Linked DNA regions of Homo sapiens. The protein of the gene in region 2 purifies or fractionates together with the protein of the main gene of each other region. This does not show direct contact. Each region holds a gene or a part of one and is shown on either strand. Other genes may lie near its edges. The genes, in order: GPATCH8, OLFM2, NGLY1, ZSWIM8, ZFHX4, VCPIP1 and USP54.

What was found.
Region 1: the proteins of OLFM2 (region 2) and GPATCH8 purify together in Homo sapiens (affinity purification with mass spectrometry; 2 studies listed by BioGRID and IntAct, with this or other methods). This does not show direct contact.
Region 3: the proteins of OLFM2 (region 2) and NGLY1 purify together in Homo sapiens (co-immunoprecipitation; one large-scale study listed by IntAct). This does not show direct contact.
Region 4: the proteins of OLFM2 (region 2) and ZSWIM8 purify together in Homo sapiens (affinity purification with mass spectrometry; 2 studies listed by BioGRID and IntAct, with this or other methods). This does not show direct contact.
Region 5: the proteins of OLFM2 (region 2) and ZFHX4 purify together in Homo sapiens (affinity purification with mass spectrometry; 2 studies listed by BioGRID and IntAct, with this or other methods). This does not show direct contact.
Region 6: the proteins of OLFM2 (region 2) and VCPIP1 purify together in Homo sapiens (affinity purification with mass spectrometry; 2 studies listed by BioGRID and IntAct, with this or other methods). This does not show direct contact.
Region 7: the proteins of OLFM2 (region 2) and USP54 purify together in Homo sapiens (affinity purification with mass spectrometry; 2 studies listed by BioGRID and IntAct, with this or other methods). This does not show direct contact.

What each region holds. Positions count from the first base shown.
Region 1 is NC_000017.11:44,430,407-44,433,906, reverse strand, and holds part of GPATCH8 (G patch domain-containing protein 8), read left to right. Parts: intron 1-3,500.
Region 2 is NC_000019.10:9,930,016-9,933,515, reverse strand, and holds part of OLFM2 (noelin-2 isoform 2 precursor), read left to right. Parts: intron 1-3,500. UniProt on the Homo sapiens protein: Involved in transforming growth factor beta (TGF-beta)-induced smooth muscle differentiation.
Region 3 is NC_000003.12:25,776,944-25,780,443, forward strand, and holds part of NGLY1 (peptide-N(4)-(N-acetyl-beta-glucosaminyl)asparagine amidase), read right to left. Parts: intron 1,746-3,500; coding exon 1,631-1,745; intron 1-1,630. UniProt on the Homo sapiens protein: Specifically deglycosylates the denatured form of N-linked glycoproteins in the cytoplasm and assists their proteasome-mediated degradation. Cleaves the beta-aspartyl-glucosamine (GlcNAc) of the glycan and the amide side chain of Asn, converting Asn to Asp.
Region 4 is NC_000010.11:73,795,606-73,798,949, forward strand, and holds part of ZSWIM8 (zinc finger SWIM domain-containing protein 8), read left to right. Parts: coding exon 1-58; intron 59-715; coding exon of another isoform or gene 716-798; intron 799-908; exon of another isoform or gene 909-1,168; coding exon 1,169-1,409; coding exon of another isoform or gene 1,410-1,414; exon of another isoform or gene 1,415-1,507; coding exon 1,508-1,666; exon of another isoform or gene 1,667-1,771; coding exon 1,772-2,000; intron 2,001-2,175; coding exon 2,176-2,465; exon of another isoform or gene 2,466-2,624; coding exon 2,625-2,848; exon of another isoform or gene 2,849-3,344. UniProt on the Homo sapiens protein: Substrate recognition component of a SCF-like E3 ubiquitin-protein ligase complex that promotes target-directed microRNA degradation (TDMD), a process that mediates degradation of microRNAs (miRNAs).
Region 5 is NC_000008.11:76,705,247-76,708,746, forward strand, and holds part of ZFHX4 (zinc finger homeobox protein 4), read left to right. Parts: coding exon 1-1,432; intron 1,433-2,299; coding exon 2,300-2,802; intron 2,803-3,500. UniProt on the Homo sapiens protein: May play a role in neural and muscle differentiation. May be involved in transcriptional regulation.
Region 6 is NC_000008.11:66,629,232-66,632,731, forward strand, and holds part of VCPIP1 (deubiquitinating protein VCPIP1), read right to left. Parts: 3' UTR 1-3,500. UniProt on the Homo sapiens protein: Deubiquitinating enzyme involved in DNA repair and reassembly of the Golgi apparatus and the endoplasmic reticulum following mitosis. Necessary for VCP-mediated reassembly of Golgi stacks after mitosis.
Region 7 is NC_000010.11:73,581,343-73,584,842, reverse strand, and holds part of USP54 (ubiquitin carboxyl-terminal hydrolase 54), read left to right. Parts: intron 1-3,500.

The DNA.
Region 1 (3,500 bases), on a different chromosome or scaffold from region 2:
TCGGCCTCCCAAAGTGTGGGGATTACAGGCGTGAGCCACTGCGCCTGGCATACTCTTTCTTCTTTAAAACATTTTCATTACTCTTGGTTTTGAAGAATTTATACTTTCCTAGATTAGTTGCTTCTTATCTGTCTTGCTGCTTCTATGTAGATTCCTTTGTTGGCTGCTGTTTATTCTGCCTGAACTTCAGATATTGGAGTTCCTCAGCTTCAGACCTGGGCCCTCTTTTTCTGGCTACATTCTTTCTCTAGGCACAAGAGTGGTCATGACACCATGTTTCATCATCTTTCACTTGGTTAAATTTTCTCCTTTGGGTTTTAGCTTAAATATTACCTCATTATAGATCTTCCCTAATCAACTCATTTAAATAATTAACCACTCTGCCTTATTCTCTTGCAACAACCTCTCTTACAATTTGTAATTATAAATTTTTATTCACTAATTTATATTCTGCTTTCTGTACTAGTCAGAAAGGGCATTGAGGAGAGAGAGTATGTCTATTTGTCTGCCAGTATATATCCTGCATCCAGCACAGTGTGTGGTGCATAAGTACTCAATAAATATTAGTTGAATGAATAAATATTTTGAAATAGTGAGAAAAGCCAGATTCATTTTATGTACTGTCTGAAATATAAACATTATAAAGAATACATTTTTATTTTTCAAGTAAAAGTTACACTGTCGAGTGAAAAATAAATGAAATACCTCAGTAATTCACAGCCTCATAAGATTATACATAGTATCTTGAGATGCTCTCTCCCTGGTAATAGAATTATTTCTCGGCTGGGTGCGGTGGATCACGGCTGTGCTTTGGGAGGATTGCTTGAGCCCAGGAGTTTGAGAGCAGTCTGGGCAATGTAGCAAGAATCTGTCTCTACAAAAAGAAAAAAGAAAAAAAATAGCTAGGTGTTGGTGGTGCATGCCTATAAATCCCAGCTACTTAGAGAAGCTGAATTGGGAGGATCACTTGGGCCCAGGAGTTGAAGACAGCAGTGACCTATGATCACACCACTGCACTCCAGCCTGGGCAAGAGCAAGAATTACTTTCCCCATCTTATTGATCAAAATATTTACTCCGAAACCCTGTCAACTCTGAACTACACTGTTTCTAAAATCTTAAATGTCCTATTATCTGACCATGGTCTTTTTTCCTTCCTGCTGTCACTCCTTTATTCTCCTATATTTTTTCTTCAACTTCACATGACTTTGGAAGCTTTAGTAACTTAGCTCCTCCTTAATTTGTACTTTTCCCCTCTAGCACCACACACTCATGTTTACCTCTCACAGCACTTTGATTCCAACTCCCTTTCCTCCTAGTCCTTTTGTCATACATACTCACCAAAAGCCTGTCCCGTTAGTACAAAATGCATTACTTGCATTCTTTATTTCTATACCCTTTCTGCCAACCTCACTGGGCCCTCAGAGCTGCCAATTAATCCTCTCATGTGTCATGTCCCTCTTAGTCCTCTCAGCTGTCATTCTCAAACATTGGTACTCAGCCTTCATCTTTCCTTAACTACCCTTGTCGTATCTCTGCCTTCCCGTATGTTTTTAGTTAAGAAAGAGAATTTGGACCATCAGGTAGTAATGCCTTCATCTACGTATACTATCCTACATCAAACGAGGGTTCACCTGCTCTCATACTTCAATATTTCTCTTTTGTTTCACCATCTGTTAAATGATAATTTGTACATACATCTGAATTCTGGATCCTAACTCTCCCTGTCTTATCAAAGACCTTCCACTTCTTTCCTGTATTGGCAACCTTTCTCTTTATTTGTTCTTTTCCTATCAACAGTAAACATACTTGAAGATTTGTTGGGAGAGGGAATCCTAAAATTAAAAAAAAAAAAAAAAAACCCACTCTGATTTACTCTCCATATAGCTACCACCTTCTCTTTTCACTTGTCTTTAGAACCAGAATTCTTAGTCACTACTCTGACTGCTTCCTTTTCATCACTCTCTCATCTCTAATTTTATAGAGATGGGATCTCACTCTGTCGTCCATGCTGGAGTTCTGTGGTGCTATCGTAGCTCACTACAGCCTTAAACTCCTGGGCTCATACAATCCTCCCACCTCAGCCTCCCAAGTAACCAAGACTATAGGCGTGCACCACCATGCCTGGCTAATTTTTTTTTTAAGAGATAGGGTCTCACTATGTTGCCCAGGCTGGTCTCAAACTCCTGACTTCAAATGATCCCCCTACCTCAGCCTCCCATTTTTATTTTTTAATTTTCATTTTTATCAAAGTTTTACTTGTATATAGTCTTAGAGCCAAATAGCTCTACCAGACTTTTAAAAGAAAAAACAAAAACTGCAGTCTCATTTGACATTCTTGTTATTTTATTAAATATTTTTAATATGTGAGATATAAAGAAAAACTATAAACACTTAGGTATTTTCTACTCAATTTAAGAAAAAGAGCACTATCAGTAACTTCATGATCCCATCACATTTCTGTCTCCTTTAGAGATAAACACTATGCTGATTTTTGTGTTTTTCGCCTTTTTTTTTTTTTTTTTTTTTTCCTTTTTGAGACAGTCTTGTTCTGTCACCCAGGCTGGAGTGCAATGGCAGAATCTCAGCTCACTGCAACCTTTGCCTCCTGGTTTCAAGCAATTCTCCTGCCCCAGCCTCCTGAGTAGCTGGGATTACAGGTGTGCACCATCACACCCAGCGAATTATTTTGGTATTTTTAGTGGAGACAGGGTTCTGTCATGTTGGCCAGGCTGGTCTAGAACTCCTGACCTCAAGTGATCCGCCTGCCTCAGCCTCCCAAAATGCTGGGATTACAGGCGTGAGCCACTGTGCCTGGCCCCCTCACAATTTTGTAGGTAAAATTGTTGTTGAGATAAAATTCACATAACATAAATTTACCATTTTAGTCATTTTATAGCAATACTACAATTTAATGATTTTTAGCTTATTTACAGTGTTGTAAAATTATCACCACTGTGGCCAGTGCGGTGGCTCACACCTGTAATCCCAGCACTTTGGGAGGCCAAGGTGGGCGGGTCACTTGAGGTCAGGAGTTCCAGACCAGCCTGGCCAAAATGGTGAAACCCCTTCCCTACTAAAAATACAAAAAAAAAAAAAAAAGCTGGGCGTGGTGTTGTGTGCCTGTAATCCGAGCTACTCAGGAGGCTGAGGCAGGAGAATCGCTTGAACCCAGGAGGCGGAGGTTGCAGTGAGCCAAGATCGCACCACTGCACTCCAGCCTGGGCGACAGACAGAGTGAGACTCTATCTCAAAAAAAAAAATGCAACAGTGAACATTCCTGTCGTCTTTCTGATCTTTATAGAGAAGCTTTCAGTCTTTCACCATTATGATGTTAGCTGGGGGTTTTTTGTTCTCATCAGGTTGAGGAAGTGCCTAATTTCTAGAAATTCCTGCTTTGTTTAGTGTTTTTACCATGAAAGAGAGTATTGGGTTTTGTCAAATGCTTATTTTGCATCTACTGAGATAACCTTGTGGGTTTTTTCCTTTTATATTCTGTTAA
Region 2 (3,500 bases):
CTGTAATCCCAGCACTTTGGGAGGCCAGGGTGAGTGGATCACTTGAGGTCAGGAGTTTGAGACCAGCCCGGCCAACATGGTGAAACCCCGTCTCTACTAAAAATGCAAAAAATTAGCCAGGTGTGGTGTTGCACACCTGTAGTCCCAGCTATTCAGGAGGCTGAGGCAGGCGAATTGCTTGAACCTGGGAGGCAGAGGTTCCAGTGAGCCAAGGTCATGCCACTGCACTCCAGCCTAGGCAACAGAACAAGACTGTCTCAAAGCAAAAAAACAGAAAAAGATTACAAGGTGGGGGCTATTTGAGCCAGTGTGGTCAGGGAAGGTGTCTCTAAGGAAGTAGTGTTTCAGGTGACATCTGAAGGAGGTGAGAGAGGGAGCCTTGTGGGTGTCTGGGGGAAGAGCATTGAAGGTGGGAGGAACAGAAGGTGCAAAGGCCCTGGGGTAAGAACAAGCTTGGTGAGTTTCAGAAGCAGTGTGGACGCTGGTGTGGCTGGAGAGGTCGCGGGGAGATGAGGCCGGGGAAGCCAGACCACTTAGGAACTTGTAAGCTGTGGGCAGAAGTTTGGATTTGACCCAGAGAGCAGGAGAACAGGAAAGCAGGGCCTGTCAGAGGCATTGTCCATTCATCCAGGATCTATCCAAGATGTTCTGGGTTCTGGCCTGGGAGTGACTACCAGAGAGCTTGACAGTTCTGAGCCCCACTATTTTCCTTGTGGAAAAGATGCCTTCCTGATCCCTGCGAAGGCCTCCCTAAGATCTAGCTACATCGTTGGCACTATCTGGGTTTGGGACCAACTCTTTCCTGGGGCTTTCAGAGGATGGGGAGAAGGAATAATTCAGTTTAGATCACGTGCCTCAGGGACTTCACACTTGCTGTTCCCTCTGCCTGTGACACTGTTCCCCCTGGTAGCTATTTATCTCTGATTTCTGCTTAAATGTCACCTCCTCCAAGAGGCTCACCCTGAACAGCTAAGTGAAATAGCCCCCTGCTGCCACTCTCTGAGTGCTTACTCCGTGTTCTTTTTCTTTCTCTCTCTTTCTTTCTTTTTTTTTTTTTTTTTGAGACTGAGTCTCACTCTGTTGCCTGGGCTGGAGTGCAGTGGCGCAATCTCGGCTCACTGCAAGCTTTGCCTCACCGGTTCAAGTGATTCTCGTGCCTCAGCCTCCCGAGTAGCTGGGACTACAGGCACGTGCCACCTGATGCCCAGCTAGTTTTTGTTGTATTTTTAGTAGAGACAGGGTTTCACCATGTTGGCCAGGCTGGTCTTGAACTCCTGACCTCAGGTGATCTGCCGCCCAAAGTGCTGGGATTATAGGCATGAGCCACCACGCCCGGCCATATTTTTCTTTATAGCCCTCGTTTCCACATTTCTATGATTCTTCTATTCATTCATTCTCTGTTTCCCCACTAGAGCGGCAGTTTATCAGGGTTCAGCTAGCTTTGTTGTTTCTCCAGTGTCTAGAGCAGAGCCTGACACACAGTAGGTGCTCAAGAAATATCTGCTGAATGGATGAATGGATGGATGGATGGACCCCCTCACACACACAGAGTGTCTTTCTTTCTCAAACCACAGGATTCTTTTATCAAGAGAGTGTCAGGGGAACACTCGCTCCTGGATGGAAGGCACCAAGAAAATCCATTCTTCAGGCCAGGTGTGATGGCTGATACCTATGATCCCAGCATTTTGGGAGACCAAAGCCAGAGGGTCTCTTGAGGCCAGGAATTTGAGACCAGCCTGGGCAATACAGCAAGATCCCATCTCTACAATAACTTTTTCTTTTTATTTCTTTTTTTTTTTTTATTTTTGAGATGGAGTCTTGTTCTGTCACCCATGCTGGAGTACAGTACAGTATTGTGATGATCTCAGCTCACTGCAACCTCTGCCTCCCGGGCTCAAGAGATTCTAGTGCCTCAGCCTCCCGAGTAGCTGGGACTACAGGGGCGTGCCACCACACCCAGCTAATTTTTGTATTTTTAGTAGAGATGGGGTTTCACCATTTTGGCCAGGCTGGTCTCGAACTCCTGACATCTTGATTTGTCTGCCTCGGCCTCCTAAACTGCTGGGATTACAGGCGTGAGCCACCGTGCCCGGCCTCTGCAGTAACTTTAAAAAAAATTGGCCAGGCTTGTAGTTCTACTCAGGAGGCTGAGGTGTGAAGATCACTTGAGCCCAGGAGTTTGAGGCTGCAGTGAGCTATCATTGCACTACTGCACTCCAGCTTGGGCGACAGACTGAGACCCTGTCTCCACAAAAAAGAAAGAAAGAAAACCCATCTTCTTTACCTGTGCCTGACATTCCACCGATAGGGCACTGTTGTTTAGGGGTAAGACGATGTTCTCCTGGGGCTCCTTTAGAGCATGTAAATGTCCCAGTGGAGGGAAGTAAAAGGAAATTTAAAGACTCCGAGTTAGTGTAGGAAAGAGCCCCTTGGGGCTGGATTTAAGATTATGGAGCTTGAGCGACATCTAGTGGTCGAGTGAGGTTTGTGCAGGGACTGTGTGCGTCTGTGTGACTGGTGGGTGAATGTGTGTGGTTGTGCACCTGTGCGTGGGCGCGTGCGTATGTGGGATGGGGGTGCCCAGGTCAGGGTAAAACAGGTGAGATACTCGCCGCGGGTGCAAACATTTTAAAAAGTTGATGATGATGATGATGATGATATTTGAAACAGAGTCTTGCTGTGTCGTCCACACTGGAGTGCAGTGGTGCGATTTCGGCTCACTGCAATCTCTGCCTCCCGGGTTCAAGCGATTCTCCTGCTCAGCCTCTCGAGTAGCTGGGATTATAGGCGCACAGCACCACAGCCGGCTAAATTTTTTTTTTTTTGTATTTTTAATAGAGACAGGGTTTCACCACGTTGCCCACTCTGGTCTCGAACTCCAGACCTCAGATGATCTGCCCGCCTTGGCCTCCCAAAGTGCTGGGATTACAGGCGTGAGCCACGGTGCCGGGCCTATTTCTAAGACGGGGTCTTGTTCTGTCACCCATGCTGGAGTGCAGTGGTGCAGTCATAGCTCACTGAAGCCTCCAACTCCTGGGCTCAAGTGATTCTTCTGCCTCAGCCTCCTGAGTAGCTAGGGTGACAGGTACATGGTACAGAGTTCAGCTATAGTACAAAATTTAAGGGTATGCCCCCCAAAAAAATAAAAACCAGTAACCAAGATAAATAATATTTTAATGGAACATTTTAAGAAAAATCTAAATTGATGCAAGAAAAATCTATAATGAATAAAAACAAATTTTTAAATAAATATGGGCTCCCCCTCTGCACTTGCATAACTTGCCTCACTCTAACTTTGGCCCCATAGGCATGTGTCTGTGGTGTCATGCGTGTATGTGTATGTTTGGTGACTGTGTGCATGTTCAGGGACCATGAGCACAGGGACATGCTTGTATCATCATCACACCAGTGACTGTATCCATGTAGGCCAACCATATGGTATGTGTGGATTTCTTTCTTTCTTTCTTTTTTTTTTTGAGATGGAGTTTCGCTCTTGTTGC
Region 3 (3,500 bases), on a different chromosome or scaffold from region 2:
TCATGGACTTTATACAAACCACTACCATTTCTTATTTAGACTAATGTAATAAGCTTTCTAACCGGTCTCCCTGCTTCATCCCTTGTCCCCATCCCACCACCTCCAGGAATTCTCTTTACAGCAAGCTAGAATAATCTTCAAAAATATTTTTCCCTACTTAAAACTTTCCAGGCTGGGCACGGCGGCTCACGCCTGTAATCCCAATACTTTGGGAGGCCAAGGCGGGCGGATCGCCTGAGGTCAAGAGTTCGAGACCAACCTGACCAACATGGAGAAATCCCATCTCTACTAAAAATACAAAATTAGCCAGGCGTGCTGTCGTATGCCTTTAATCCCAGCTACTCAGGAGGCTGAGGCAGGAGAATCGCTTGAATCCAGGAGGCGAAGGTTGTGGTAAGCTGAGATTGCATCACCGCACTCCAGCCTGGGCAACAAGAGCGAAACTCCATCTCAAAAAAAAAAAAAAAAAAAAAAATTCCCAGTGGCTTCTCATCTCACTTAAAATAAAGTCTAAGTCTTTTGCCACATTCCTCAAGACCCCATGTGTCCTGGTCTCTGCCTCCCTATGCAGCTTATTTCTGTTTCACGGTTACTTCTGCTGGAAATCCTTTACACACATTAATCCTTCTGCCTGAAACACTCTTACCTGAGAGTTTCAGGTACCTGAGATGTTTCAAGTCACAGCTCAAATGTCATCTCCTCAGAGAGGACTTCCCTGACCACTGCCTGCCATGCAAAGTACTTTTTATTCTATTACCTGGTCTTATTTTCTTCTTTGCACTCATCTTGTTTTCACATCTACTGGCTGTTTAACCTACTAGAATGTAAGCTCTATGTGAGGTGGGATTATATCTACTACTTTGTTCACTACTGTTACTTCAGGGCCTGAAATGGAACCTGGGGAGGGAAGCAGAGAGGCATGAAGAAAAGTGAATCTTACATAGCAGCTCAGCATATCTCTTTAACAACTTCTACAATTGCCTATTCTGACGACCACTGACTATTGAGTCTCTGTAACTTGTTCAAGTTCTTTCAATGCTCTACAAAGGAGAACTAGTTAAGGATATAAACATAAAGAAAATTCAGAATCTTAATAACTACTTTCGATGTGTCATAAAATTAAACTACACCACAAGATTCCAAAAGATAACACCAAAATATTCATTTGAAGTAAAAACAAAAAAAAATACTGAGACTCCTCTCCTGTCACAGAAGAAACCCCTTCTGTGTGGCAGCTCAACTCAGTTTTTCTGTTTACTTCAGACTCTTTTCATTTCCTACTACAGACAGGTAGCTAGACTCTATTAGTATTCATGTGTGCTCACAAATCAGGTTTTAGCTAAAAGCCTAAAGTGAACCACATTTGGTCCTTGGGTTGCATGTATGACCCTTATTTTAAAGAACTGAGACTCGTAAGAATTTCTCTGTGGAGCGTTGTTACATTTTACTGAAATTTTAAACTATACTTGTTGTGATTTTTAAATGTCCAATCAATGAAGAAATAACTACTTCTACTGATTCCCAAAATGATAAATTAAAAAACATTATCTTATTCAAACAATTATTCACCAACATGATAATGGCTGCTTTGTGCATGAAGAGGGGAGAGGAAATCCTTGAACATACTTACCTCTTCAAAGCCCATTTCAAATAAACATTCAACAGCTCCTCTGACAGGCAAGAGTCTAGTAGAAAAGGCTGTGTTTCCAATCCGGATGGATCTATATTTTTCATCATTAGGGTTTCTGACAAAAAACAAAAGTTTGATTATATATAAAAAAAACCAGGTCATAGTTCTTCAAAGACTTTACTTTCAACAAACATGACCTAGGTATACCTTTATAGTCACCTGATTTTCTTTCTTCCCTAAACCAATGGTTGTTTTTACTATAAGTAAAAACAGTAAATTACATTCTGTGCTGTTAAGGTACATTTTTTTTTTTTGAGATGGGGGGGGTCTCGCTTCAGTTTAAGATACATTCTTTTTTTTTTTTTTTTTTTTTTTTTTTGAGAGAGGGGTCTTGCTCTGTTTCCCAAGCTGGAGTGCAGTGGCGTGACCTCGGCTCACTACAGCCTCCACCTCCCAGGTTCAAGCAATTCTCCCACCTCAGCCTCCCAAGTAGCTAGGATTACAGGGGTGCACCACCACTCCTGGCTAATTTTGCATTTTTTAAGTAGAGACAGGGTTTCACCATGTCGACCAGGCTGGTCTCGAACTCTCGACCTCAGGTGATCCACCCGCCTCAGCCTCCCAAAGTGCTGGGGATTACAGGCGTGAGCCACCGCACCTGGCCCAAGACATATTCTTGACACAGACAGTATGGCAATAAAAGGAAGACATAAATTTCTTTTACCATAATTAAGATTTTGAATAGTACACTTGGGACAAGTAACCAGCACATGAAAAGTTTTGGTTTGAGATTTTTAATTACTTTGATAAATCAGAATTGTTTAAAAAAAATTAAAAGAATGTAAGGTTAAGCTAATCATAGTATTATATTCAAAAGACCCTCAGAACATAGTTTAGGATGATAAGTTTCATACCTGACACCAACTGCCTTAAAGTGATAGTGACTTCTTTAAGTACTATGTTAAGGAGGATTCTGAGGCAGTATCTGGGATCCATAGGAAGATGTACTTCCATAAGAAGCCACCTGCCCTGGGGTATGATATGGTGAGTAGGCAAATGCTAGCAAATGACTTATCAACTTTGTCCTATCTACACATGTTCTCTAGGTATTCTGACGTAAAAACAAAACCAAAAACCAAATATTTTAATTTTATAAGTTTTAACAAATTTTGCATTTGTTTTTCACCAGTCAATTGCCTATTGGCCAAAGTGTCATAAATACTAAATGAATGTTTTTAAACTTTTCCCTAATTTCAAAAATCATGTTTATTACAGAATATTCAGAGACAAATGCTCTATTTTTTTTGCTATTCAAAATGTCCACAGATTGGTGCTAATCTACAAATTATTTGTTACCCATACACAAGTAGTACAGAAATTTTTTCTTTGTTTGTTTACAAGTGCATAAAAATGAAGCAAGAAGTAGAGAAATTGAATGTTCGGTATACAGCAATTTGATATTGCCATGAAATTTTCAGTGTATTTTACAAAAGTTATAGGTCCATAAGGGATTGGAAATTAAAACAAAAACATTGTTCTTTACTATATGTAATTTGAGAATCACAGATGGTTGTGAAATACAAAGAAAATTTTATTCTCAACTCTTTATTCTGTGTATTAGATTAGGGTTTCTCAGTCTCAGCACCATTAACATGTGGGGCCTTTTCTCAGTGGAGTTTCCTTGTGCACTGCAGAACATTCGCATTCCTGGCTTCCATGCTACACTGTCTCACAAGTGAGCCTCTCTTTCTTATCACTTAAGAAAACTGAACTATAAAATAATCCTACATTTATCAAAGCTAGTTTTCGATAAATGGGGCATCTTTTCCTGACACTCAATGTATTTCACAGGGTGATAAACATGTCAGTA
Region 4 (3,344 bases), on a different chromosome or scaffold from region 2:
TGACCTGGCATTAGCACTAATGATCACTTACAAGGACGACCAGGCCAAGCTTAAGAAGGTAAGAGACTGGGGCTGGGTGCGGTGGCTCATGCCTGTAATCCCAGCAGTTTGGGAGGCAGAGGCGGGCAGATGGCTTGAGCCCAGGAGTTTGAGACAAGCCTGGGCAACATGGCGAAACCCCGTCTCTACCAAAAAATACAAAAAATTAGCAGCTGGGTGTGGTGGCACATGCCTGTAGTCCCAGCTACTCGGGAGGCTGAGGTGGGAGGATTGCTTGAACCCAGTAGGCAGAGGTTGCAATGAGCTGGGTTCACGCCACTGCACTCCAGCCTGGGTGACAGAGCAAGACCCTGTTTCAAAAAAAAAAAAAAAAAAAAAAGGCAAGGTACTGGGGCCTTTGACAGGCAGAGAAAGAGAGCACATTTTACTACCTTTCTCAGGGAGTTTCCAGTACAATGAGAAAAGTGCTATTTTAGGCTGGGTGCAGTGGCTCATGCCTGTAATCTCAGCACTTTGGGAAGCAGAGGCGGGAGGATCGTTTGAGACCAACCTGGCCAACATAGTGAGACCCTGTCTCTACAAAAAATTAGAAAATTAGCCGGGCATGGTGGCGCGCGCCTGTAGTCCCAGCTACTCGGGAGGCTGAGGTGGGAGAATTGCTTGAGCCCAGGAGTTTGAGGCTACAGTGAGCTATAATCATACCACTGCACTCCAGCCTGGGCAACAGAGCGAGACCCTGTCTCTTAAAAAAAAAAGAAGAAGAAGAAAAAAAGAAAAGTGCTCTTCTGCCCATAGGAGGTAAGTAGGGAATCTTGGGGACATCTCATAAAGAATAAGAGAAGACCAATGGTTCTTATAGGAGTGCTTGGGCATGGGGTGGAAGAAGAGAAGCAGAGGGCATAAAGTCATTCATTCACTTATTTCAGTATTTATTGACTATCAGTATATTCTGCCCTGTGGTGTTAATGGAGGATACCAAGATATGTTGGGGTTAAATAAGTTACAAAAAGACATGTAAACCAGGAGGTCATCCTGTGGTTGTAAGTGGGGAAGGCTCCCTGAGGATGTAGCAATTGGCTGTTTCAAGGAGAAAGGAAGGTAATAGAAGTCAGGAGCTAAAGGGCATCCTGTCACTGCTTCTCTGGAGGTCACTGCTTCTGTCTTCCAGATCTTAGACAAACTCTTGGACCGAGAGAGCCAGACACATAAGCCACAGACGCTGAGTTCTTTCTACTCATCTAGCCGCCCAACCACAGCCAGCCAGAGGTCTCCTTCAAAGCACGGGGGCCCATCTGCCCCAGGGGCCCTGCAACCACTGACCTCAGGCTCTGCAGGGCCTGCTCAACCAGGGAGTGTGGCAGGGGCTGGGCCAGGCCCCACTGAGGGCTTCACAGAGAAGAATGTGCCTGGTGAGGTGGGGGCACTGGGCAGGGGGGATGAATGGTGTGGACCTATGTTGAGGTCCCCTTTCCTGGGCTCATCCCAGCGTCCTGTTTTCCTCACCTAGAGAGTTCCCCACATTCCCCCTGTGAGGGTCTTCCATCTGAGGCAGCTTTGACCCCAAGGCCAGAAGGGAAGGTTCCTAGCCGCTTGGCACTTGGCAGTCGTGGAGGCTATAATGGACGGGGATGGGGGTCCCCAGGACGGCCTAAGAAGAAGCACACAGGTAGGATAGCCTGTGGGCTAGCATAGAGGGAAGGATAATCCTGAAGGTTGGAGTCTTAACATCTGGGACTCCTGACTTCTGAGACTGACTTCTCTTGGGGGTTAGGCATGGCCAGCATTGACAGCAGTGCCCCTGAAACAACATCGGATAGTTCCCCCACCTTAAGCCGGAGACCACTTCGAGGGGGCTGGGCCCCCACCTCCTGGGGTCGAGGTCAGGACAGTGACAGCATTAGCAGCTCTTCTTCGGACTCCCTGGGCTCCTCATCCTCCAGTGGAAGTCGCCGGGCCAGTGCCAGTGGAGGAGCCCGGGCGAAGACTGTTGAAGTTGGCAGGTCAGTGGGAAGAACTCCCCATCTTCCCTGATCTGGCCCACCCTCAGAGCCACACCCCTAGTGCAATCCAACCATTGTCTCCCAGCATCCTCACTTTCCCTGGTCCTTCCCAACCTACCCGGATGCCCATTTCAAAGAAACCCCAACCCCCGTCCCTACCCCATTGCCCCTTCAGGTACAAGGGCCGCCGCCCCGAGAGTCATGCCCCTCATGTACCCAATCAGCCATCAGAGGCAGCTGCACACTTCTACTTCGAGCTGGCGAAGACAGTGCTGATCAAGGCAGGGGGCAACAGCAGCACTTCCATTTTCACACATCCATCTTCCTCAGGGGGCCACCAGGGTCCTCACCGCAACCTGCACCTTTGCGCCTTCGAGATTGGGCTTTATGCCCTTGGCCTGCACAACTTTGTTTCTCCCAACTGGCTCTCACGTACTTATTCTTCCCACGTTTCCTGGATTACAGGTAAATCATTTGACCTGACTTGGGTATGGGAGGGGGATTAATTGGTGGGGATAAGACCCTTATCTTTGTGGGGTTACTGATCTGATAAAAAGACATTATTCTCACACCCCAGTGGTGCCCACACTAACCCAACTCTGCCCTTCTCTCCTTTCCCCTAAGGCCAGGCCATGGAGATAGGCAGCGCAGCCCTGACTATACTGGTAGAATGCTGGGATGGGCACCTGACACCCCCTGAGGTTGCATCCCTGGCTGACAGGGCATCACGGGCAAGAGACTCCAATATGGTGAGGGCGGCAGCAGAGCTGGCCCTGAGCTGCCTGCCTCACGCCCATGCATTGAACCCTAATGAGATCCAGCGGGCCCTGGTGCAGTGCAAGGAACAGGTATTTCTACGGGCAATCTGGGAACCTCTTCTGGGGCATCTGGGCAGGGAGGTTGGGCATGGGAAAGCTAAGGGCCCAGCTCTTGATTCCCGTATCCTGGAGTTTACAGATGATTGTTGGTCCTCTCATGGCAACATTTTACCCATTAATGTGCTTTCACACCCATCTTTCCTTTACCTTACAACTCAAAGGTTAGGTTTATTTCTATTTTACAGATAAGGAAATGGAGGCCTACGGTTTAGGGACCAAGATGATCACTCAGGATAGAAAACTTAGGGAAGGCCTCATACATCTAAGACTTGAATGGGAGGGGGCTGTTAAATTAGTTTGGAACTGGGACTATAACCTGGGTCTTGACTCATTTTGGTCAGTATTTACTCAGTGTGTGAAGCACTCACTGCTCTGATAATGGACTCTAAGCATTGACACTGACCTCTGATGATTCCCTGGGAATGAGACAGCTCTGAGGGAGACATTGGAATCTCATCTAACACCT
Region 5 (3,500 bases), on a different chromosome or scaffold from region 2:
AGCACCTCGAGCTCAGCAGAGCAGCCGCTGGGGATTACCCAAATGCCAAAGGCTGAAGTGAATCTGGGGGGGCTGTCTAGTTTAGTAGTGAACACCCCAATTACCTCTGTCTCCCTCAGCCACTCATCGTCTGAGTCTAGCAAGATGTCAGAGAGCAAAGACCAAGAGAACAACTGTGAAAGGCCAAAAGAAAGCAACGTTTTACACCCAAACGGGGAGTGCCCTGTCAAAAGTGAACCCACTGAACCGGGAGATGAGGATGAAGAAGATGCGTACTCCAATGAACTTGATGACGAGGAAGTATTAGGTGAACTCACCGATAGTATTGGTAACAAAGATTTCCCTCTCTTAAACCAAAGCATTTCTCCTTTATCATCCAGTGTGCTAAAATTTATTGAAAAGGGTACCTCGTCCTCCTCGGCGACTGTTTCTGATGACACAGAAAAGAAAAAACAGACTGCTGCTGTTAGGGCCAGTGGCAGTGTTGCTAGTAACTATGGCATCAGTGGCAAGGACTTTGCAGACGCAAGTGCCAGTAAAGACAGTGCCACAGCTGCTCATCCAAGTGAAATAGCCCGGGGAGACGAAGACAGTTCAGCCACTCCTCACCAGCATGGCTTTACCCCGAGTACTCCTGGCACACCAGGGCCTGGAGGAGACGGCTCACCGGGCAGTGGCATCGAGTGTCCAAAGTGCGACACTGTGTTGGGGTCTTCGAGGTCTCTTGGTGGTCATATGACTATGATGCACTCGAGGAACTCATGCAAAACCCTCAAATGTCCTAAATGTAACTGGCACTACAAATATCAGCAGACCCTGGAGGCCCATATGAAGGAGAAACACCCTGAGCCGGGTGGCTCTTGTGTTTATTGTAAGACTGGACAGCCTCACCCCAGGCTTGCCCGGGGTGAGAGTTACACGTGTGGCTATAAACCCTTCCGTTGTGAGGTTTGTAACTACTCTACCACTACCAAAGGCAACCTCAGTATTCATATGCAGTCGGACAAGCACCTGAACAATGTTCAGAATCTCCAAAATGGCAATGGTGAGCAGGTGTTTGGCCACTCTGCCCCAGCCCCCAACACCAGCCTCAGTGGCTGCGGAACACCCTCTCCGTCCAAACCCAAACAGAAACCCACCTGGCGGTGTGAAGTTTGTGATTATGAAACCAATGTCGCCAGGAACCTCCGAATTCATATGACCAGCGAAAAGCACATGCATAATATGATGCTTTTGCAGCAGAACATGAAGCAGATCCAGCATAATCTGCACTTGGGCCTCGCCCCGGCGGAAGCAGAGCTTTATCAGTACTACCTAGCCCAGAACATAGGCCTGACCGGAATGAAGCTGGAAAACCCTGCCGACCCTCAGCTGATGATCAATCCATTCCAGCTGGATCCAGCGACAGCAGCGGCTTTGGCACCAGGGCTCGGTTAGTATTTCCTGCTTTTCTGCACTGTTGTTAGTTTCTAATCACATTTTGATTTGGCGTGATGCACCCAGATAAAATGGTGAGTGCCAACAAATTGAGGACAGCTTACTAGAAAGGACTTTCTCTTTAAGCTGGATAATCAAACCATTTGCTCTTCTGCTTCAAAGCGAAATTAACTTCAGAGAAGAAAGAGTTAAGGGATCAATGGCGGCATCAGCGAAGTTAGCAAACTTTGTCTTCATTCAGTAAGTTGATTAACAAAAGCTAATTTGCATTAATTGCCTGCCATCATTAGCCATACCTTACAAGGTTTATAGTTTCAATTTTGGTGATTATTCGCTAACATATCAAACGAGCTTTAAAAGGGTATAGCATTATTTTGAATTAAATATATTTAAGAAATATTTTAATGGCTGTGATCCAAGATAATTAATCTAACAATAATACCATTACCTTATCCCAGGTATTTGGCAGTAGATTACAGGCACGCATACAATATTAGCCAAATCTCATCAAGCTTTAAGACAAATTGGGAAATAACAATTAGTGCTTATGTAAGTTTATCTAGGCTCTTAAATTGAAAGCACGTGACTGTTTTGTTATGGTATTGATCAACTTTCTTGCCCTCGAAAATACAAATTTCAGAATGACATCATGCCCAGTAGGAGTAATTAAAGCTATCTGATGAGGGAATTTAGAAGTTGAAAGGGATGATTGTAATTGATCCTGATTGAATCCTATTACAGCTTTTTATAGTTTAAGCTCTAGAGAAAGCACATTCCTTGTCAAGACTTTATTTTACAGATTCCTTTGTGTGTGCTGTGTTTTCTAGTCTCTATTTTTCCTTTTAATTTTTTTTTCCTGTAGTAAATAATGAGCTGCCGCCTGAAATCCGGCTTGCCAGTGGTCAGCTAATGGGTGATGACCTGTCCCTCCTTACTGCAGGAGAGCTGTCACCTTATATCAGTGACCCAGCGCTGAAGCTATTCCAGTGTGCTGTTTGCAACAAATTCACCTCTGACAGCCTGGAGGCCCTAAGTGTGCATGTGAGCAGTGAGCGCTCTCTCCCTGAAGAGGAATGGAGGGCAGTAATTGGAGATATCTACCAGTGCAAGCTCTGCAACTACAACACTCAGCTCAAAGCCAACTTCCAGCTACACTGCAAGACTGATAAACATATGCAGAAATATCAACTGGTGGCTCACATTAAAGAAGGGGGCAAAAGCAATGAGTGGAGGTTGAAGTGTATTGCCATTGGCAACCCTGTTCACCTAAAATGTAACGCCTGTGACTATTACACCAACAGTGTGGATAAATTACGCTTGCATACCACCAATCACAGGCACGAGGCGGCCCTGAAGCTCTACAAGGTAAGCAGTGACATCCATTTCCGTTGGCACAGAGTAGAAAAGGGAATTAACTCTTTCAGAGCTTGGAGCACAAGTCTCCAACTTAAGGAAAAAAAAAGAGAAAAAACATCAAAGGGCAGGGGGCACAGTTTCTGATTAACATTATAAAAACATATTGAAATATATGGAATTGAAGGCTTTATTTATAAAGTTTTACCCTATGTCTCACTTACACCTGTCTCAGTGGCATTTATTTCTTCACTGGCTTCCCCAAAATAAAAGAATTTGGGGGATAGTGTTATATATAAAATAATACTTTTTAAACCTATTGATTTTTTTTTTTTTTGAACCTAGCACCACTCTTGGCTAAATGTAAATGGTTACAGGGAGCAGAAGACAAAATCAGTGCCTAACCTTGTGAATGCATAATATTTTGTTTGGTGACAAACAATGACGCTCCAAACATAATGTTTGTTTCTTTGTTTTCTTGTGTGTGCTCAGTAGCACTGAGTAAACACACTCTCCCTTAGCATCCTTGGAAGTCTCTAAAAGTAAATTCTGTTGTTATTTTGTATGACTGTCTTCCTATCAATATTTTCCTCCTAAATGGGTGTGGTATAGATAAATATGCTTATTTATACAATGCTTTATACAATGGCAAATATACTTTTATCTTTACTTGGAAGACTGTGCACATGTACTGAATACGTGCAAGTGAT
Region 6 (3,500 bases), on a different chromosome or scaffold from region 2:
AGGAATGCACAGAGAGGTCACAGAAAGCAGCGTACCAGGAGTCAGACCTAGGCAGTCTGGTGTCTAAGGCTATACTCTAAATTATTGAGTTAAATGATCTAATAAAATGTATATTAAGCATATACAATAAAACTTGGAAGTAAACGTGTTGACTGCTAAGCTACACAAACGTTATTTAGTACTATTATCTGTATTTCCTTTCATTTCCTTATCACTAACCAGTATTTTTTTAAACCACCACAAAATCAAGTTCTCTGTTAGAATTTGCCTTCATTTTTAAATATTCAGTAAGCATTATGGCCCAATTATGTAATATGTCTAAAGAAATTTTGCTGGCAGGGTGCGGTGGCTCACGCCTGTAATCCCAGCACTTAAAGAGGCAGAGGAGGGCAGATCACTTGAGCTCAGGGGTTCAAGACCGGCCTGGGCAACATGGCAAAACCCTATCTCTACAAAAAATACAAAAATTAGCCAGGTGTGGTGGCACATGCCTGTAGTCCCAGCTATTCAGGAGGCTGAGGTGGGAGGATCACTTGAGCCCAGGAGGTTGAGGCTGCAGTGAGCCCTGATCATGCCACGGCAATCCAGCATGGGCAGCAGAGTGAGACCGTTTTGGTTTTTTTTTAAATTGCGCACTCTTTTTTCACTGGGTCCATTTCATCTAGCAATGAAATCTACATTAAGGGGAAAAATCACTATTCCTGTACGATAACCCGCTTAAGTTCAACAAGAAAACTTTATTATTTAAGAATTTCTTTATAAAACTGAACTATATGTTCATGCATTATAATTCCAGGAAACTAAAGAACATAAAATTACCTTTAAAAGCTAATGTGGAGAATTTCAGGGGAAAATCAGTATTAACTTATAGTTTTATTATTGATATAAAAGAAAACTTCAAATACTGTACAGTAAGGTGTGCTGTAGAACACTATAATACACTATTACCAATTATTCATTACTCAAATGTAATATATACAGTAATCACGAAATCGGAAAATAATGGGCAACAGCCAGTGCCTTAAGGGTGAAATAACATCTATACTATTTTATTGAGCAGTTAAAGCACTTGCTATTTTTCTAAATATTTACACTATTACTGCTTATGTTTACAAATTCTAAGTATCATTTCCCTCCAAAAAGTAGACTTTCCAGTTCTTGGCACTAATTCTTAGTCAAATAAGCCTGAAAATACTGGCAACCTTTTCAGTCTTGCATTGCTCTACCACAGGCATAATAAGGGCTCAGGACGAGATTTCTGCATTCTAAAGAAAAGTAGGCAATACCTTAAAAATTTAAAAACTAAGTAATTGATACTCACAAGCAGGTAACATCAACTAAAACTTTTTTCTTTACTAATTTTTCCTTTTCTTTTACAAGAGAATAATCATTAATATTATACTACAAAAGCATGTAGTCTCCATAATTAAAAAATTAAATGTCAGATATACAAGTAATGGCATTTTCTCCAATAATTCATAATTTTTACAATTTCTGCTATTTTGGAACAAACATTAAAATTCCCACGATTTAAGTATCATTAAATATGAACTGAAACACTTAGCATCTCAAAGAATTATCAAGAATGGTAGAACTTGTAATTAACTCTATAACTTACATGGGTGATATAGTTCCCCTTTGTTGTTTTATTTCTTAAATATACATTCTACTAAGGAATATTTTCATGTGAACAGCTCTGGTTTGAAAAATTAATTTATACTGTGAAGAGCCTTAAGGTTGTACAATTTTGTTAAATTATATGATAACCTTGAATGGTAGGATGCATTTACTCAACTTAGAATATGGCGCTATTATTATTATAAATGGTGGTTTTTAATTCACATTAAGATAGGTGGAATTTAATCCAATTTTGCAAAGGCTTTGTGTTTATAAAAATCTTAAGATGGAAACCTTGCTTTGAGAACCATAAAACTCAAAATCTGTGTAGTATTTTAAGTATGAACCAATTGAAATTACTGTTGAAAAATGAAGACAAAACTGTATTGATATTCTGAAATAAACACTTTATGCTGCCACTATATTGACCAGTTGAAGTGTAATTAATGACAGAAGTAAATTTTTTACCTAAAGGTTAGTTATTAGTGAGGTCTACATATTTAGAGAGTTATTCAGTAGCAGATAGTATTGGTAGGTAACTACATAAAACAATACTTTTATACATTTTGCATTTAGTAGCTAACATGTGATGTCAGTACAATTCTCAAAAACCTGTCATTAGTAGTATGAGTTGCTAGCAAGTGATCTTCCCTGAGGTAAGAGACCATATGCAAAAGTCAGTGTTCATCTCCAATGAAGATACTTAAAAATAATGGCAATAAGGACCTGTGGCCAGGAATTACAGATGCATTTCAGATTGATATCTTAATTGCAAGCAGTAGGCTTGACTGTAAAAACCAAACTAAAAATCACTGGAAGACACAGAGCCAGTATCAGTCAATAGCATTTGCTAACTTTCTCAGGCCTCTACCCTAACATTTTCCAATAAAAATATCTGAAACAGAGTGAAGCGGGAGAAATGGGTTTGCTCTTTAACTAGTTCCTGAGTAACCATTCTCATGGAGTTAATTATATTCTATCTTAATATATGGCAGCATCTTGTTTTCTTCAATTTACAACAATTTCTCATTACCAGTATTCTAGATACATACTATCTTCAACACTACCTGGACTTTAGGTCATCAACTTAAATTTGGTATGATTAACTATAAAATGGATTACTGAAGAAAAAATTTACAACTTTATTTCAATGTTTAGTGAAGCACTGCAAACAGAATTGCAGGAATGCATTTTAGTTATAATGTTACCTCTAGGGCTAAAAAAAAAAAAAAAAACAAATTTACCTGAGATGTCTAGCTTGCACGCCAAGATGTGGCTATATCACAAATGGCAGTACTAGAAAAATAACCATGCTATAGTCATGTATTTGGTTATGAAAACCATATGGAAAGACAAAGGATGATATTTAAAAACTTAAAAGAAACCCTATTCTAAAACTTCTTTGTGAGGATACCTGGCCTACTTCTCAAAAACCATCAATTCACCCCAACCAAATTTTCAGCTGATTTGAAAGAATTTCAAGAAATTTGATCACTTATCAGAATTGAGCCTTTTATTCATTTATCAAGGGAGAACCCAAACTATTACTGTACTATTCATACCTAACTGGCTTTTAAATAGCATTGCTGTAGCTAGAGAAATTAATAAAGTTGTCAGAGATTAAGTCCATCTTCTAACATTCACATACGCATTCCAATTTGCACTAAATGTAAGAATAGGGAGATAAAGTTTGTTTCTGGTATTTTATGTTAATGCTATGAGATATCTGTCAGTTATCAATGAAGAAAATATTTGTTAAAGAAGATTATATCATTTTACATGAAAGCAGTGCATTTTTTGCTTAAACAGTTTTCCTGTATTTAAATCCCCCCAAAAAAAGTTCCAGTGGCTGAAAAAGCCAAAAATAATTATAGTGGTTAGTG
Region 7 (3,500 bases), on a different chromosome or scaffold from region 2:
GTTTCTAAATAGGAAATAGTTACCAATTATTAACCAGCTTTCATATTGTTAGGATATTACGGGTCTCAATGGTCGGTTATCTCTGGTCTCAAGTCCTTTCACTCTATTTTTAGGGAAAATGTGTTTAAACCCCTATTTTAAGGAAATGATAGTTTATAGATTATTTATAAATTATAGTTAATTTAGAAAATAGAAAAAAGGAAAAAAATCCATAATTTCATCATCCTAACAAGACCGCTATCATTTTACATTTACTTACCCCGATGTTGCTGAGTTTTAAACTTCTCTGTTAATTCATTCTGCGCACATTTAGCTCTGAGAAACAGGTTTCTGAACTAATAAAACACCCAATAATTGCCATACTGTGATATTAAACAGTAAACCAAGAGGTTTCACATATAACCCTCAGTGGATTGTAGGATCACAAACTACGTCAACGTCTCTTCTTTTTTTTTTGAGACAAAGTCTCACTCCATTGCCAGGCTGGAGTGCAGTGGCGTGATCTTGGCTCACTGCAACCTCCGACTCCCTGGTTCAAGCAATTCTCCTGCCTCAGCCTCCCGAGTAGCTGGGATTACAGGCACATGCCACCACGCCCGGCTAATTTTTGTATTTTTAGTACAGATGGGGTTTCACTATGTTGGCCAGACTGGTCTCGAGCTCCTGACCTCGTGATCTGTCCGCCTCGGCCTCCCAAAGTGTTGGCATTACAGGCGTGAGCCACTGTGCCCGTTCACATCTCTTCTTTTCCTATAAATCAATCTTGGTCCATCTACCTTTAGACATATAAATATTTATTTCCCAAATGCCTCAATCCCTTTTGGGCCCAAAGTTCCATCTTCTTCAGTGAATTATTTGCATAATTTAAAATGTTTTTTATTTTGAATTTATAGAAAAGTTGGAAAAATAGTTACCTCTAATGATACCATCTTATATAACCATAATACATTTATCAGAACCAGGAATTAATAGTATTGGTATAACACTATTAACTAAAGAGCTTTCCTGAATTTCACCAGTTTGCCTACCATTATTATTTTTCCTTTTTTATTTTCAGTTTTTTTAAATTGTAATTTATTTTTTTTTTATTTTTAAAGACAGGGTCTTGCTTTGTCACCCTGGCTGGAGTGCAGTGGCACAGTCATAGCTCACTACAGGCTTGAATTTCCAGGCTCAAAAAGTCCTCCTGCCTCACCCTTCTGAGTAGCTGGGACTACAGGCAAGCATTAGCCTGGCTAATTAAAAAAAATTTTTTTTGGCCAGGTGCAGTGGCTCACGCCTGTAATCCCAGCACTTTGGGAGGCTGAGGCGGGCGGATCACCCGAGGTCAGCAGTTTGAGACCAGCCTGGCCAACATAGTGAAACCCCATCTTTACTGAAAATACAAAAATTAGCTGGGCGTGGTGGCAGGCGCCTGTAATCCCAGCTACTCCAGAGGCTGAGGCAGGAGGATTGCTTGAACCCAGGTGACTGAGGTTGCAGTAAGCCAAGATCGCGCCATTTTACTCCAGCCTGGGTGACAAGTGAGAAACTTTGTTTCAAAAAAAAATTTTCTTTGTTTTGTAGAGACAGGGTTTCGCCATCTTGCACAAGCTGCATTGTTCTTTTTCTGTTCCAGGATCCTATCTGGAATCTCACATTGCATTTTAGGTGTTTTTCTTCCTTACTCTTCTGTATTCTGTAAAAGTTTCTTAGTCTTTCTTTGTCTTTTATAACCTTGACATTTTTGTAGAGTATTGATCAATATCAGTTTGAGGGCTATTTGTCAAATATTCCTTAATTTGGATTTGTCTGATATTTTTCTGATGATTGGACTGAGATTATGGTTTAGGCAAGAATACCACAGAAATAATTGTGTCCTTTTCAGTGCATCATATCATGGCATTCATGATGTCAATATGTATTATTACTGGTTATTTTGACCTTGATCACTTGGTTAAGGTAGTTTCTGCTGGGTTTCTCCATTGTGAAACTACTATATTTTCCTTTGTAGTTAATAAATGCCTTAGTGGAGATACTTTGATACTGTCATTTTTATTAATGTCATGGAGTTCTCTACACATGCAATTAATAGTGTCTCCTTAAAGACTTTATTGAACTTTAGTTACTGTGAAGTCAATTAGCTTAAAGAGTCCATCTCCTTGGATGGGCGCAGTGGTTCACGCCTGTGCCACCGCATGGTTCACAACTTTGGGAGGCCGAGGTGGGTGGATCACTTGAGGCCAGGAGTTCAAGACCAGCCTGGCCAACATGGCGAAACTCTGTCTCTACTAAAAGTACAAAAATAGCCAGGCATGGTGGCGCATGCCTGTAATCCCAGCTACTCGGGAGGCTGAGGTAGGAGAATTGCTTGAACCCGGGAGGTGGAGGTGGCTGTTGCAGTGAGCCAAGATCGCATCACTGCACTCCAGCCTGGGTGACAGAGCGAGACTCTGTCTCAAAAAAAAAAAAAAGTCCTTCTCCTTAGAAACTTCCCACACTTTACACCTGGTTTTATCAAAGGGTTCCCAGGCTTTGCACGAACAAATTCTATCTAGTCTTCATTGATTTCAGTTCCATTCTAGCTCTGCTCATAATGAATCTCTTATGCTAATAACCTGTAGCTCTCTGGGCCTCATTTACCCCTCTGTCTCTTAGGGCGCCAGGCTCCTCCTGGCCCAGTGTCCTTCCAGGCCTCATCTCCCTTTATGCACAAGCCAGTTCCTTTGAATGACTGCTTTGGGTTTTTTCCGAAACAGGCTGAGAGAAGCTGACTTTGTTGGTGAAGAATACAGTGGGGGATAATTAGGGTGGCTGCAGCTGGAGCCTGGTTTATTACTTTGGCCTGAGAAAAATGGTAGCACATTAAGCTGTACTGTGTATACTTGTGAAAGAATCATTCTCTGTATTTCACTAATACAGAGAAAGTGTTTTTTTCTAAAGGTCACCAGCTTCTAGAGGTATGTCTTTAATTCTGGCAACCTTAATCTGTAATGATCTTTTCAATTTAGCCCTGTTGACTGTGGAGTTACTTGCTGTGAGCACAAGAATCCAAAATCCAAATGTGGACCAAATATTATATTTAGATCTATTTAGTTCAAACAAATTTTATACAGTGAATAACATTAGATGTTTCTTTGATTAATAAAATACAAATTTATTAGTATTACTGAATTCAAAGTAGCTTTTTGAATTATGTATTTTCTCAAGTGACATATACTATAAAAGCCCCATTTATGTAATGTGGATGGGGCAGACTTAGATTCTCTGACACTTGAAGCTTATGCAATTCAGAGGGCCTCCTTTAAGGAAAATATTTTTTGAAACAGAAAATGAGATATTGGGCCTTGAGAATCTGTGCAAGAGAAAGAGTCCTGAAGCTTAAGTTTCAGTGGCTTGGTAAATCTGCCTCTGGATGTGAGGCACTGCAAAAAGGTTGAGACCCACTGTTTTCCATCATTTCATACATGGAAAGGTTTTTGGCTTACCCACAGGAGGCTAGTGTTTTCAGATTGGGAACA